3 separate regions of the Homo sapiens genome follow, and regions 2 and 3 are each linked to region 1. Evidence: fine-mapped expression QTL. A gene starts in region 1. Each other region holds a variant in brackets. All regions are shown on one strand. Distances are between the middles of the regions. Region 1 holds the start of PSMG4 (proteasome assembly chaperone 4). Region 2 overlaps SLC22A23 (solute carrier family 22 member 23). Region 3 overlaps SLC22A23 (solute carrier family 22 member 23).

The links. PIP is the estimated chance that this variant, and not a neighbour inherited with it, causes the effect.
Region 2: its variant is fine-mapped to the expression of PSMG4 in tibial artery (GTEx, PIP above 0.99).
Region 3: its variant is fine-mapped to the expression of PSMG4 in whole blood (INTERVAL, PIP above 0.99).

What each region holds. Positions count from the first base shown.
Region 1 is chr6:3,257,349-3,260,104 of GRCh38, forward strand. PSMG4 (proteasome assembly chaperone 4) reads left to right here and starts at 1,599. Exons shown (of 3, transcript NM_001128591.2): 1 at 1,599-1,848. The coding sequence starts at 1,675. RefSeq lists silencers at 1,419-1,668, 1,789-1,908, 1,959-2,058 and an enhancer at 2,179-2,308.
Region 2 is chr6:3,284,419-3,287,174 of GRCh38, forward strand. It overlaps SLC22A23 (solute carrier family 22 member 23), which reads right to left. Exons shown (of 10, transcript NM_015482.2): 7 at 2,441-2,673; 8 at 661-693. Among named protein-coding and RNA genes, the nearest start is that of PSMG4, 27 kb to the left of the region's middle. RefSeq lists an enhancer at 2,509-2,756. The variant G/A (reference allele first, on the strand shown) is at 1,319.
Region 3 is chr6:3,295,008-3,297,763 of GRCh38, forward strand. The region is part of intron 5 of SLC22A23 (solute carrier family 22 member 23); the gene reads right to left. Among named protein-coding and RNA genes, the nearest start is that of PSMG4, 37 kb to the left of the region's middle. RefSeq lists an enhancer at 1,698-2,198. The variant A/C (reference allele first, on the strand shown) is at 1,293.

The DNA.
Region 1 (2,756 bases):
AGGAGCATTGAGGTTTTGAGACATGTATAACCAGTGAAACCATCATTACAATCCAGATTGAGAAATTTGCCATGCCAGCCAGGCCTTGAACTCTCCACCGGTCGGTAACTTTGTTTCCTTAATCTTTGGGTCCTCCTAGCTGATTGAAGGGCCTCAAATCACAAAGTAAAGGGATAAAACAATTATGGTGTAGCCATACAATGGAACACTGCTTAGTAATACAAAGACACAAGCCATTGACACACAAGCAGATGAACCCAAGATAATTATGATGAAGGAAAGAAGCTGGACAAAAAACAGTACATACTGTGTGATTCCACTGATACAAAACTCTGGAAAATGCAGACTAATCTGTGTGGCAGGAAGCAGATCAGTGGTTGGGGGCAGGAGTCATTACTGAGGGCAGGAGGGAGTACTGGACGCGTTCACTTTGTGGATTGTGATGATGATTTCACTGGCTATAACGTGTCAAGACTTCAATTTGTACACTATATATGTGCAGTTATTGTATGTTAATCACATTTTAATAAAGCTGTTAAAATATTGACCTGAAAATTAACTGTATTATTGAATCATCGATAATTAGCAAATAGAACTATGGAAAATGCCCTCTTAAATTTCAATTTAGTCAACTTAGATCTATTAGAGATTTTTAAAGCAGACCTTTTATAGTTCCAAGTTAAATCTCTAAAGTCAGTTGTAACAGAATCTGACAAAATGGGCTGTTTTCTTTTACCACCTTCTCTCTTAACCCATCAAGGCTTCCTTTTCTCAACTCTGTAATGTCCTGAAGTGTTCAAGGGGTCTCCCCATAGGTATGACAATGGGATGATTGGATGATTGTTGGTGCTTCCCATTAATCTCTCTTGAGATCCTTTCCACGTCTCCGAAAGGCACCTGTTCTTATTTGCATTTTGCAGATGAGGAAACTGAGTCTCAGAGAGGTTAAGGGGGTAGCCCGAGGCCATGTACATGACTGCAGCTTGGGACTCGGCGTCCAAAAGGGTGCCTGCCCATCCTCCTGCCAACTTAGTTGACACAATTTTCCTTTCTAAAGGCTTTCTCCCAATACCGTTGCCATTCTTAATTAGGGCTGGGTGCCGTCGAAGCCTCCTTGGAGTTAAAGGGCTGCTAGGAGGAGGAGGTGGGACGGGAGGTGGCCGTTCTCAGAGTGCTTGAAGAACTAATTAAAAATCAGTCTTTTTAAATTTTTAATTAAATTAATGTCTGTAGGGCGAAGTGTCACGGCCTGGGAGGACGGTGCGGCTGGCTTCAGCCCTTGAATGCCCCGCGTCAGTAATAATTAGGGGGTGGGGGGAAACAAAGCGAGGGTGAGTTCTGCTGGGCGCCCGTGGACTCCTAGAGGTCACTGTCGCACTCTGCTACTCAAGTGGGTTTCCCCAGCCCGTCCAGAGAGGTACTGGTGTGCGGGAGAGGCCAGCAAGACAACCAGGGACAGCTACTCCGCCCAGGGCCGGCAGCCGCCCCGCCTCGACCACGCCCCCAACCCAAGCCCGGGATCGCCCCTCCCCGACCACGCCCCTCACCCCCGCCCTTCCGGGGCCGAAAGCGAAAGCGCGCTCGGTCTCTCGGTGCTCGCTCCATCGGGTCTGGCGGGGCTGGCAGCGGCGAGGACCCGGGTCTGGCGCTGTGGGCCGGGAGCCGTGGGGCGGCATGGAGGGGCTGGTTGTCGCCGCCGGCGGGGACGTCTCCCTGCACAACTTCAGCGCGAGGCTGTGGGAGCAGCTGGTCCACTTCCACGTCATGCGGCTGACGGACTCGCTGTTCCTGTGGGTGGGGGCCACGCCGCACCTGCGCAACCTCGCCGTGGCCATGTGCAGCCGCTACGTGAGTGCCTGGCGGCCGAGGGTGCGGGCGGCGGGGCGGGGGCGCGGGGGCGCCGGGCCTGCGCGAGCTGCAGCCCCCCAGGCTTCTCTTGGGTCCACAGGGCGCCCTACTCCCCCGAAGCCCACCCGTGGGATGTCTTAGGAAGCCCGCGGGCGCCAGGGCCTGCACCACCTCGGGAGCTGCGCGCGGGCCCCGGGCCCCTCTCCTTGTCCCGCCGCCCCGCAGCTGCGTCCCGCACTGGTCTCTGTAGGTCAGAATGTCTTGGGTCTGTCCTCGCCACACGCTCGCTGGGGGACGCGTCTGCCTCGTAGCTCTCCTGCCATCTGGATTTTGAGCACACTGATAATTTTTTGGGGACTCTTGCGTCTCCACTGGATGTCTCAGGCATTTCGCACTAGGCACACATCAGGCTCTCTTCTCCAAACCTGCTCCCTCCTCCGCCTGACTGGCGCTGTGATGGCAGCTCCATCTTCCTGGCTGTGCGTTCAGAGCCTCGCAGTTGTCTTTGATTCCTCTTTCTTCACACTCCACGTGCTGAGTCCCTAGGCACTGCCGCCAGTCAAAGCAGACAAAACCCAAGCCGCCCTCACCTTCACCCTGCCGCGCTGGGCCAAGCCTGGGACATTATCATTTCCCCTCCTCTCCCGCCTTTCCGGCTTTGCGTGTCGCCGCCTGGTTTCTCCTGGTTTCCTGAGGCAGCTGTAAGAAAGTGCCACAGACCGCGTGGCTTAAAACAACAGAGGTTTATTCTCAAAGATCTGTAGACAAGGTCTCTCACTGTCACCCAGGCTGGGGTACAGTGTCATTATTATAGCTCACTGTCACCTCAAACTCCTGGGCTTAAGTGATCCTCCTTCCTCAGCCTCCCGAGTAGCTAGGACTACAGACATGTGCCACCATACCTGGCT
Region 2 (2,756 bases), 27 kb after region 1:
GGCAAGTGTTCAACCCATCAAAGCCCTCGTAAATGGCACCGGAGACCGACCTCGCGCCAGGACAGGGTCTGGCACAGTGCACGGGCATGCTGTCAGGACCATACAGCTGGGGCTCAGCTCAGCTTCCCCAAGGCTGCATAGAGGGCAAGCACTCTCCAGGGACACGGGCGAGGGCTGGGGCAGGCCAGGCGGGTGCAGCAGCAGCTTCGAGGTGCAGGGCGGCACTGTGCTGTCCCCATGGGCTGCAGGGCAGCAAGCTTACATGAGTCAAAGGGGGACAGCGGCTTCCCCTGGCAGCACAGACAGCCGGGCCCCAGCACTCCCAGGCTTTCTCCCCCCACCCAGACAACTGTCCCTAAGACAAAGCATGTTGGCGCCGGGCCAGGGCCTGTGCTGAGCCTGGTGCCAGGGGAAGGGGCGGGGGCATGCGTGCCAAGCAGCACACAAACAGGGAAGCACCAGTCGCTCTTTCTAGAGGCAAGAGGGAGAATACAAATGTATCCGTATAGTGTCCAACCTACGGCCAACTTCAGCTGCAGTTCTTGGAGGGCAACGGGGAGAAAGAGAAAATGGAAACCACAGGTCCGTGAGTCTTCGAGAAAACACCCATTTAGATGTAATATGAGACGAGGAAGCACAGCCCACGCGCTTGGGACTCACCTGAGTCTGGGTGCTGGCTGTACTTTCCAATCACTGGACCCGCAGACATGATCGCACCCACACGGACAAGGGCCAAGCAAGCGAGAAGAGAGAAGAGAGCACATTAGGTGTGGAGTTAGCCTAGCGTGTTCCCATGCGACTTGGTTCAAGCAAACTCCCTTCCGTGTCTGGGATGGCGCTGGCCGCCGGGGCAGTGGAATTCATACTGCGCTAAACAAAGATCTTTTTGTTAGGAAGACAGGAGTGAGACCCTGCTGGCCTCAGAGCCTGAGGAGAAAATGGAACCTTCACAGTGAGACCCCAGCAGGTGCAAAGGGTGAGCTTCCTTGCATGTAAAGTCACCCACAGGTCACTGCCGCCTGCATTCAAGCTGCGTCAAGTGCTGTGGGGTGCCCCTGCCAGCCCCAGCTCTGCTCCTCACGGCTGCTTGGTGTTCGCCTGGGGCTCCTGTGCATTCCTGCTCAGGGCCAAAGGGGCACCACAACACCCGGGGGCTGAGGCACCCTGCCACTTCCGTCCCAACTGTGTGAGCAGGAGACTCCCTGGAAGGGCAGCTGGGGAACGGGGATGGAGGGAGACAGGCGCCACGTGTGCAATCCATTAGCTAAGCCTAACAGCAGTCTCCCAGCAAGGTATAGATTGCATAAGAACTGTCCAA[G/A]TTAGAAAGCTGCTCCTGAGTTTGAAGTGAGCCATCTCTAATCTAGGCTGCACGACAAGGCCGCTCTGATCTGGGTGCGGTGGACAGCCCTGGCGTCTAGTTCTGAGAGCCCGGGTTCATTTTCCTTGTAAAGGCAGGGGAGCTCTGTGGGGTCGATGTTCCCGCAGTGTCCTGAGCCTGTCCCAGGAGGACCGTGCCAGGGTGGGAGAAGAGGCTCATCGGTCCTGCCTGTTCACGTCGCGCCCTGGGCTGGCCACGGAGATGCTGTGGTGGTTTGTCCATACACGGGAATGGGTATTTGTTGGTGAGGAGCTATACAGAGCTTGCTGGAAGGGCCAGATGGACTCTCTAGCTTTGCCTTAGATTTTTTTTTTTTTTTTGAGATGGAGTCTTGCTCTGTCACCCAGGCTGGAGTGCAGTGCTGCGATCTCAGCTTACTGCAACCTCTGCCTCCCAAGTTCAAGTGATTCTTCTGCCTCAGCCTCCTGAGTAGCTGGGACTACAGGCGTGTACCACCAAGCCCAGCTAATTATTTTTTGTATATTTAGTAGAGATGGGGTTTCACTACATTGGTCAGGCTGGTTTGAACTCCTGACCTCATGATCCGACCGCCTCAGCCTCCCAAAGTGCTGGGATTACAGGCGTGAGCCACCGCACCCGGCCAGATTATTTTTAACCTTTACTGAGAAATTCTTTGGTCCAAAGAGAAGCTGATGAACTCGGGAACATCTGCTGAAAAGCAGGGCCCTAATGCAAGGGTGACAAAACAGATTTATTTCCCCCTTAATGTCACTCGAAAGAGACAATCCTTTGTTCTTCTTGGTCATGTGATGAATCACACAGAAGCAGTCTACCTATTAGCAAAGACTGGGCCACCAGGACTCGGAAGGAATCATGGTGCAGCCCGGGCCGGGGCAGGGGCAGGGGGAGGCGGGAAGGCCCAGTGCCCTCTAAGGCGGGCTCCACAGATGCTCTCAACTGAAGCTCTGTTCTCCCCAAAGCAGCTCCTTCCAGCAGTAGATTTTAGAGTGGCCAGCGGAGTCTTATGCAGCCCTTTCAAATGCCCTTGGGGATCTGCCAGCTTCCCTCCCTGCACCCAGCCCACCTCCCCGACCCACTCACGGTTGAGGAGGCCGAGCTGCAGGAGTGAGGCCAGGGCGGTGAGGATCATGAAGAGCAGCAGCCCTCCCCTGCGCCCGAGGAATCGGACCACCACGCACATGGCCAGGCAGGACACCAGCGCGATGCTGGCCGTGGTATAGTAGTCAGCATAGAAGTTCTCCAGGAGCGGCACCTTCACCTCGTGGCCCATCATGCTCCTGGCAAAGCAGTGGTGGATCCCGTACCCCGTCAGCCTGTGGAGACATACCGAGCGGCAGTGGGTGGGCTGCCCCCATGCCAGGGGCTGCGCTGCCTCCTGGGAGTTCGTGCTGTCAGG
Region 3 (2,756 bases), 38 kb after region 1:
CCCTTCCTTCCTATAGGAGTCCTGGGTTCGTTTAGCCCATAAATATTCATGGCACACCTGCTACGCGTCGCGTCAGGCCTTCGGCTGGGCTGCTGCTGGGGGCACAGAAGTGTCTGGCTCTACAGACGGGCCCTGCCTTGCCTGGCCTTGCCGCTCTGCAGGGGTGACAGGCAGTAATAAGGAACCCTGCAATTACTCGTCGTAGCTGGGATGAGGGGAAGCGGGGAGAAGTGCTGAAGTTGTAACAGTGAATAACTGGGGGCTGACTTGGTCTCTGAGGAGCTGGGCAAGGCAAGAGTGGGGAGCTGAGAGGACAGGGAGTGTGCACCGGGAGGGACCTGTGGAGAGGGAGACGGTGGTGTGTCCTGGGAGCCAAACGAAGGCCAGGGTGTGAGGTGGTGGGAGGCAGAGATCAGAGCCTCTGCAGTGGCCTGGAGGACCTGGGGTCTACCCGAAAGGCACTGGGAGGCACTGGAGAGGCTTGAAGCCGGTGGTGATGTGATCAGATCATGTGTGACCTGGTGGCAGGGAGGATGGAACAAAGCTGGGAGCCCAGCCAGCCGGCCAGGGCGCGAGAGGGTGACAGACACGAGGCTCGGAGCAGGTGTTGGCTGTGGGATTAGATGGGGTGATGGGAGGAAGATTCCATGCAGAAAACTGAGCCTGGGCAGAGGAAGCTGGAAGTGGGAGATGTAGCAACTGAAAGACACGCTGCCTTCCCCCACACTCAGCAGCCCTGCCAATCGTGCTGCCATCAACACATCTGACAGCTGGGGGTGGAAGAGAGCAGAGTCCACTGTGAAGGGCTGCGGGGCAGAGCCACCACCTGAGGACCGCTCCCCAAGGAGGTGAAGCCTCTATCCTCTTTGTTAAGTCACATGTCACCAACTGCCTCTCACCCAGCCTCCTGCCTGGGACTCTGGAAAGGAAATAAGCACCAGCAAAACTCATAAGCAAAGAAATAAATTTTTAAAAAGGATCTAATACCACTTTCCAAATATAGGAGGGAAATGAATCAGTGTAATTAGGATTTGAGAAAACAAGCTATTCCCAGACAATATTTTAACGTGAAAGAAGCAGAGTGTGATGACTTAATTAGGGAAATGCCACAAACAAATTGTACTGTAAGCCTAAGAGCATTAACCTGCTAACGAGTGAGGTCTGGGGAAATCTGGGAAAGCCATCTGGACCGTCCAAAACGAGCAAGCATGGCCCCGCTGGAGAAACCTGGATTGAGTACTCACTACTCAGCGCAGGGAAGTTTGTATCTATCCAGAGCTCTCCCTCATGTT[A/C]GAGCAGCGTGGCAAAGCCACCCCTGCTGGACTTTGCACCCCTGCTGGACAAGTCCTCGCTCAACTTCTTAGCAGCTGTGTGACCTCTGGAAGCTGCTTAGCCTCTCTGTGCTCCCGTTTCCTCATCGGCAAACGGGGCTAATTATAGTGCCTCTCTCATAGGCTGTCATGGAGAAATAATACACGTGAAGCACTTGGGGGCTAAATATTAAATATGAATTAATATTTGCAAATCACTTAGAAAAGGAGCTGAAATGTGAGTGCCATGTGAGTGTCATCGTGTTTCTCGTCACTGTCCCTGGATAAAAAGGGACCACAGATGCACCAGCACTCAGCACCCTTCATGTCAACCAGACCTGGCTCATGTCCTTCTTCTGTCCAGCGAAGCAAAAGCTTCAGGCGTCCCTGGGTAGGCCCCACCCCACCCAGCACGTGGTCCAGCCTGGGTGACCTGACTCTCACGGCCCTGCACAAGTTGAGGCAGAGGGTGACATCCTGGCTGAGCTACGGCAGCACCAAGGAGCTTCTAGTGACCTAGTGTCCCCGATCTTCTGAACTGGGAGTCTAACGAGAGGCCTGTCCAGGTACCAAGGGCTTCTCTGATTTGGGGTTCCCGTGCATCCCTTCCCATCGTAAATGGATACCTGCAGGGCACATTCTCCCACCTCACTCAGGCCCCTGCACCTGTGCCCCTGGAGCAAAGCTTCCGCAGCCACTCTGACTGTAGTCCCTCCCTGCCACCCTCTATCCCACAGCCCTGCTGTTTCATCCCTCCTGACGTATGCACGTGTAACTTCCCTGTCTGTGTGCCCCACCTGCCTGCAAGTTACGTGAGAGCAAGGCTTTGCCTGTGTCTTCTCTGCTCTAGAATAGCGCCTGAAACACAGCAGGCATCTAGTAAACACGTGTTGGTTTACTGAATGAATCATGATCACAAGCATTTCTGGTCAGGGGGGAAAATGAGCATATTCTCTCTTGGACGATGGCCTGGAGGTTATTTTCCCAGGGAATTTTATAGCAACAATTTATCCCAGGTCTTCAGTGAGGGCAGTGAGTCAGAGCTTGGGCCGAGACCACCAGTGATCTTCAAACGGAAATCTGTATACCACTTGCATCAGAATCTCTTCTAGTGCTTATTAGAAATGCAAGTTCTCAGGGCTTATCCCAAATCTAACAGGTCAGGATCTCCAGGTGCCAGGGAGAGGCCCAGGAATCTGGATTTTAACAACCTCCTGGTGATACGTGGATCCCCAGGTTGAGAACCCCCACCTAGCTGTGGTAACGCTCCTGACACGCAGGAATTCTATGGATCTGAACGACTATCCAAAAACACTTCACCTTTCCTGTCTTCAGCTGCCCAACAAATAGGTCATGGCCAGGTAAAGACAATGGTGGCTCTCTGAAGGTCATGCTCAGGAAAGCTGAGGTCACAGGGGCCATCTACACCCTGAGCCAGCGCTCTGG